2 linked regions of the Homo sapiens genome follow. The gene in region 1 interacts genetically with each later gene. Each region holds a gene or a part of one and is shown on either strand. Other genes may lie near its edges. The genes, in order: SPANXC and FLT3.

Region 1 (3,163 bases):
TATCTTTGACGAACTTTCCAAAGTCAAATTCTAACTTGATTCCTCATTAATTTTTTGATATGAGTCCTCTGAAGTCCAAAAGAGACATATTGGTCTTATTTGGTATAAAAATCATACAAGAAGCATCGTCAAATATAAAATGCTGTTTGACTTTCTTTGGGCTGTATTTATAGAAATGTCATTGATATGTGCTCCAAAATTATGGGAAACTCTTATACTTCTGAAATAACTTGTGTATGTTATTAATTATAACTTTTATGTTAAATTCTTGTATGCTACAGAAGTAACCAAAATTTACTTGTCAATGGTGGTTTTAATAATGGCTGTCCTGGCTGGGTGTGGTGGCTCACGCCTGTAATCCCAGCACTTTGGAGGCCAAGGCGGGTGGATCACGAGGTCAGGAGTTCAAGACCAGCTTGGCCAAGATGGTGAGACCCCCGTCTCTCCTAAAAATACAAAAATTAGCCGGGCGTGGTGGCACAGGCCTGTAATCCCAGCTACTCAGGAAGCTGAGCCAGAGAATCACTTAAACCCAGGAGGCAGAGGTTGCAGTGAGCTGAGATCATGCCATTGCACTCCAGCCTGGGCAACAACAGTGAAACTCCATTTCAAAAAGAGAAAAAAATATACACCCCTGATTTGAAACAAGACTAGGATACACGGTAAAGAATGTTTATTCACTAAAGTTTTGACAGACTGAAGGCCATTATTTCAGATTGGAGATAGGAAACTTAAAAGAACTACATGGACATTGGGTAAAAGAACATGGGTTGAAATTTGCCTGGCAGTAGCCCAAAAGTAAATGGTCTTCGAGGTGCATGTGAAGGAACTGTAGGAGGGAAATGGGATAATTCACATCTCTGCCAATAAATAAATGTAGCCACACTAGCTTGGGGGATTTGAGGTGAGACATCGAAAATACTAAGTCATGGTGAGGGCTGGAAGACAAAAGAATGAATCACTTAATAGGAATGGCTGTGGGGAAGGGCTTGAAGGAATCATCCTCTGACTTCCATGTGAACCGTGAACATTAAACATGGAGAAATGAGGAGCGGCGGCAGATCGGTTTGGGATGCATCTTCAGGGGATGCTGAAACAACAACAGCATTTGGTTTGCTCTACACCCCTGTCACCCCTCGCCCGCAAGCCCAGGGAGTGGTCAGCAGTGGGGCTTTGTGATGTGAAGCCACCCTAGGGCTGCCATTGGCTGGGACACTGCCTGTATGATCAAACAAAGCTCAAGGGTGTGGCTTTGCCTTGTCACCAGGAGGGTATATACAGGGAGGGCAAGAGCTCCGGGCCACTGCGAAGATTCAAAACCTACAAAAGCCTGCCGCTGACATTGAAGAACCAATATATACAATGGACAAACAATCCAGTGCCGGCGGGGTGAAGAGGAGCGTCCCCTGTGATTCCAACGAGGCCAACGAGATGGTAAGACTGTTAGGTTTTGAATTGAAGGCGAGGGTGAAAGAAAGACACACAGAGCGGGGGCGGCTCAAACAACAACACAGGAATATTGCAGACCATTGTGGAAGTGGGGGGCCCGCTTAATGCCAGAGCCCACCGCCGCTTACAGGCTGGGGTGCTTGTAGGTAGGGGTGGGAGGGGCCTGGGCAGTATGGCTTGCTGCCCGGCAGGATATTGATAAGATGTTCTTATGATCAGGTGGTTTGGCCCTTTTTCTGGTGGAATATCATTGTGGTGTTCCTTAGAACGCTGCCAAGCAAGATATGATAGGGATGTTTCTTCAGTTGGGCCTTTGTCCGCCTTGCGGACAGGTGGTTAGGCAGGATGTTTCTCACGGCCTGAACCCCCATGGGATGTTTCACTTTGACCAAGGTCTGCAAAATAGCAAAGAACTGACAAAATGGTGCAGTTTGGACTCACAGGTGACCCTACCCACGCTCCTCTTCTTCTTCCCCATAGATCCCTACTCTGTGCTTCAACCTTCTTCTTCTCTGGATCAAACCCCTTCCTCAACCCGCATTCCTTCTTCTCATGAAGCCCCCTTGCTATCCAGTCTCTATCCTGTTCACCCAAAATAATGTCCTCCTGGCCTCTCCCTGCTTTCTTAACAGATGCCGGAGACCTCGAGTGGGTACTCAGACCCGCAACCTGCTCCGAAAAAACTAAAAACATCTGAGTCCTCGACCATACTAGTGGTTCGCTACAGGAGGAACGTGAAAAGAACATCTCCAGAGGAACTGGTGAATGACCACGCCCGAGAGAACAGAATCAACCCCCTCCAAATGGAGGAGGAGGAATTCATGGAAATAATGGTTGAAATACCTGCAAAGTAGCAAGAAGCTACATCTCTCAACCTTGGGCAATGAAAATAAAGTTTGAGAAGCTGATGGCTGTGTATATCTCTGCCTGTTTTCTGATGGTGGCGGGGGAAGGGAAGGGAAGGGAAGAGGTAGGCATTTGAGAAGGGAGGGATATGAGGTCCTGTAGGGTTGGTGGACAGACCCACAGGTTGACAGTAAGCCAGACATTGTAAATAAGGCCTGGGGGAGGACTGATTCCTAAAGAAAATTTTCTTCTTAAAATTTTATCTCACAGGAAGTGGAGATGTGTATATGTTCACGCAACTGTACCCGGCAGCACATAGTTCTGCTGAATGTACATATCAAAGGTATTCCCATCCCCTTTCCATTTGATATTTTCCTAGGCTAGAAATAGATGCTTTATAAAGCGTAAATGTTCTGTAAAACACAAAGCACAATACAAAAGAAGATAGTAGATGTAGGAGTAAGTAAACGGCAGGAAAGCATTGCTTGTGATGAAATGATTGAAAAGCCAATTCTAAAACAAAATGTTCAATGCATCTTAAATATTTGTTAGTGTTTTAATGACCTCAGCAGTCTTTAATCAAGATAAGTATGCTTTAGAAATGTGTTGATATCCGCAAAGTGTGAATATTCAAAATCGCCATGACTTGGGAAAAGGAAAGTAAAACACTCTTAAGTATGAGGAGCTTTTTCCCATGGAATGTGAACTGCAAGGTGGTGAGAAGGGTTAGGTGTGATGTGGTGAGATCATTTTTAGGAGAGTGTGTCTATTATCGGCTTCCTAACACTTCCATTTTGCATGATAATTTCCTGAAAGTCATCATTTAATTAAGGCTATAGATTTTGATTACCATGTGTCTTAAAATGTC
Region 2 (4,129 bases), on another chromosome or scaffold:
GTTAATTCAGGTGGAAGATTGGAAGTGTTATTGGTATTTGTGCTACACAAACTTCATGAGGTGGTTAGAAATTCAGTGGTAGAGATGTACATTTGGATTCAACAGGTTCAACAAATGCTAACTAACTGCTATGTCTACTTCACAAAAGGCACGCATGAGTAGTTACTGTTCATCCTTCAGGGTACAAGCAAAGCTGTCATTGTGCAACACCTGGTTCACAATGGATATATTTTGGGTCAAAGGATACACACACACACACACACACACACACACACACACAATTTTCTAGAAAGAAAAGTGAAGTGTAGGAGGCAGTCTGGACAGTTCACATTAAAACTGTCAAAAACAAAGAAAAAGAAGTAGACAGTAACAAGGGCTGTGGGAACGGAACAAATCTATAAAATTTAAATAGAATGCATGATTCCTAAATCATAAAGTTCTTATAAACAAATAATAATAAAAATGTATCACCTTTTAAAAACTTATTTCTTTTAGAGACAGGATCTTGCTATGTTGGTTAGTTTGGTCTTGAACTCTTGGCCTCAAGCAATCCTCCCGCCCCGGCCTCCCAAAGTGCTAGGATTACAGAGTTGAGCCAGTACACCCAGCCTGTATAGCCTTTTATATACATAAAAGGCAAAGGAAATAGGCAGGCTATTCAAAATGAAAACAAATGGACATAAAGTATAGGAAAAAGGCCCAACTTTGCAGATAGTGAAACATATATAGTTAAGGAGATAGAACTTCTTGCTCAGCAAAAGAGAAGAGATGTGGGAGGCTGACATACCCATTGTTCAGAAGGCTCTGGAAAATATAGTTTCCAGGCACCGTTGATAGGAGTAGAAATAAATACAACCTTTCTGCAGGGCAGCCTGGCCTTGTGTATCACAGTTCAAGTGTGCATCCTTTTTGATCCAGCAATTCCACTTCTGCTTATCCCAACGTCAGACTAGATTGAGTGTGCACTTTTCAGTTTGTTTCGTATAACCAGTTGGTCAAAAGGTTAATTATGATGCATCAGTACTATGGAACTCTAGGCTGCCGTGAAAAAAAAATATGTGGCCATCCTTAGTGAATAATGTAAATATGTGACACAGGCAACATATGAGCAGTATAATAACAATATATTGATAATTCAAAATAAGGTTCCAAAATAGAATATATAGCCTGAGCCCACAGACACAAAATTGTGTGTGCATAGCAAGCTGTCTATAATGGCGGGTACTTGTCATGACTTGTAGCCTTTTTTCTTTTTTTTGAGATGGAGTCTTGCTCTGTCACCCAGGCTGGAGTGCAGTGGCACAATCTAGGCTCACTGCAGCCTCCACCTCCCAGGTTCAAGCAATTCTCCTGCCTTAGCCTCCCAAGTAGCTGGGACTGCAGGCGCGCGCCGCCATGCCCGGCTAGTTTTGTATTTTTAGTAGAGACAGGGTTTCTCCACGTTGGCTAGGCTGGTCCTGAACTCCCAACCCCAGGTGATCCGCCCGCCTCGGCATCCCAAAGTGCTGGGATTACAGGCATGAGCCACTGCGCCCGGCCTTCTACGTCTCTTTCTGTATTTCTCAAATTATCTATATGAATGCATGTTAACTTCATATTTGGGAAAGGAAAGTAAATCTCTTCATTTCAGAAAAAAATATTTAAAAGTCGTGAAACTCCAAGGGAAAACTCAAGAATCAGTCCCTTGTATTAACTCCATAATGAACAGATTTCCTTTTGTGGCCTTTCTCTTTTATGATTTTTCTGCATGGTTTTAGGATTTCTAGGGTGACATTTTATATCTGAGAGTAGACTCAATAATGAAATAAAATATTTGACTATGATTTGATTTCTCCATTAATAAAAGGACCAAAATTGCTTTTTTAGTTATATAGAATATCCTCTGAGACCTATGCATAATAAAAGTACTTGTCTACACGTTTCCTGAAAATATGTACATCTATTATATATCAGTTTAAACATTTTAAAAGTGATGTCTAGGCCGGGCGTAGTGGCTCACACCTGTAATCGCAGCACTTTGGGAGGCCGGGGTGGTGTGGGATCACTTGAGCCCAGGAGTTTGAGACCACCCTGGACAACATAGTGAGACTTTGTCTTTACAAAAAATAAAAAAATTAGCAGGGTGTGGTGGAGCCTGCTTGTGGTCCCAGCTACTCAGGAGGTTAAGGTGGGAGGATTGCTCAAACCCAGAACATCAAGGCCACGGTGAACTATGGTTGTACCACTGCACTCCAGTCTGGGCAACAGAGCGAGACTCTGTCTCAAAAAATAAACAAACAAACAACAAACAAACAAAAAAGTAATTGTCTATATAGAACAACTGTTTTTATTTAAATAATTTGTAATATGGGCGCATAACATGTGCATCTACATCAGATGGTAATCAGTGTTCTGTCTCTTTCCCACATTCAGATGTATCAGAATGTGGATGGCCGTGTTTCGGAATGTCCTCACACCTACCAAAACAGGCGACCTTTCAGCAGAGAGATGGATTTGGGGCTACTCTCTCCGCAGGCTCAGGTCGAAGATTCGTAGAGGAACAATTTAGTTTTAAGGACTTCATCCCTCCACCTATCCCTAACAGGCTGTAGATTACCAAAACAAGATTAATTTCATCACTAAAAGAAAATCTATTATCAACTGCTGCTTCACCAGACTTTTCTCTAGAAGCTGTCTGCGTTTACTCTTGTTTTCAAAGGGACTTTTGTAAAATCAAATCATCCTGTCACAAGGCAGGAGGAGCTGATAATGAACTTTATTGGAGCATTGATCTGCATCCAAGGCCTTCTCAGGCTGGCTTGAGTGAATTGTGTACCTGAAGTACAGTATATTCTTGTAAATACATAAAACAAAAGCATTTTGCTAAGGAGAAGCTAATATGATTTTTTAAGTCTATGTTTTAAAATAATATGTAAATTTTTCAGCTATTTAGTGATATATTTTATGGGTGGGAATAAAATTTCTACTACAGAATTGCCCATTATTGAATTATTTACATGGTATAATTAGGGCAAGTCTTAACTGGAGTTCACGAACCCCCTGAAATTGTGCACCCATAGCCACCTACACATTCCTTCCAGAGCACGTGTGCTTTTACCCCAAGATACAAGGAATGTGTAGGCAGCTATGGTTGTCACAGCCTAAGATTTCTGCAACAACAGGGGTTGTATTGGGGGAAGTTTATAATGAATAGGTGTTCTACCATAAAGAGTAATACATCACCTAGACACTTTGGCGGCCTTCCCAGACTCAGGGCCAGTCAGAAGTAACATGGAGGATTAGTATTTTCAATAAAGTTACTCTTGTCCCCACAGTCCCCTTCATTTTATTTTTATTTATTTGTTTGTTTATTTAATGTTTTAGTGACAGGGTCTCACCCTGTCTCCCAGGCTGGAGTGGAGTGGTGAGATCACAGCTCACTGCAGCCTGAAACTCCTGGCCTCAAGCGATCCTCCCACCTCAGCCTCCTGAGTGGCTGGGACTACAAGCACAGGCCACCACGCCCAGCTAATTTTTAAAATTTTTTGTAGAGATAGTGTCTTGCTATGCTGTGCAGGCTGGTCACAAATTCTTGGCCTCAAACAGTCCTCTTGCCTCAGCCTCCTAAAGTGCTGGGATTACAGGTGTGAGCCATGGCGACCAGCCCTCTTTGTCCTTTGAAGCTTAGCACCCTCCATCCTGTAGGCTTATGAACTTGGTTTGTGCCCCCGCCCCGCCCACCTCCGCTTACACGACAGGTGCCACCAAATTCTGCCTCTTCTTTCTCCTCCACCTCCTGTTGCATGTAGTGGTGAGGGACAAGGGATCTGGAACCGGTCAGCCCAGGTTGGAATTCTCTTTTCACCTGGCCTTAGCTGTGTCATTGGGGCAAGTAACTCAACTTCTCTAGCCTCAGTTTCCTTTTCTGAAAAATGGGACACTAATGGCATCTCTTTTATAGAGTTGCTGGAATAATTAGATGAATTAAATATATACGTAGCTTAGAAATATAGAAATATAGAACATAAACATATACATCATGTAGATCAATGCCTGGCACCTCAGTGTGACCTAATAGCATCATTTGTGCCTTCCTTTATAGTTTTAATCCTTTGCCTAGTACCAGGTCACCATAAACTCCCTTAGATTA

Evidence for each region.
Region 2: changes in SPANXC (region 1) and FLT3 together harm fitness less than expected from each alone (positive genetic interaction), as found in Homo sapiens cells (one study listed by BioGRID).

Annotation. Positions count from the first base shown.
Region 1 is NC_000023.11:141,240,657-141,243,819, reverse strand, and holds SPANXC (sperm protein associated with the nucleus on the X chromosome C), read left to right. Parts: upstream 1-1,302; 5' UTR 1,303-1,362; coding exon 1,363-1,434; intron 1,435-2,081; coding exon 2,082-2,303; 3' UTR 2,304-2,357; downstream 2,358-3,163.
Region 2 is NC_000013.11:28,002,458-28,006,586, reverse strand, and holds the end of FLT3 (receptor-type tyrosine-protein kinase FLT3 precursor), read left to right. Parts: intron 1-2,412; coding exon 2,413-2,535; 3' UTR 2,536-3,313; downstream 3,314-4,129. UniProt on the Homo sapiens protein: Tyrosine-protein kinase that acts as a cell-surface receptor for the cytokine FLT3LG and regulates differentiation, proliferation and survival of hematopoietic progenitor cells and of dendritic cells.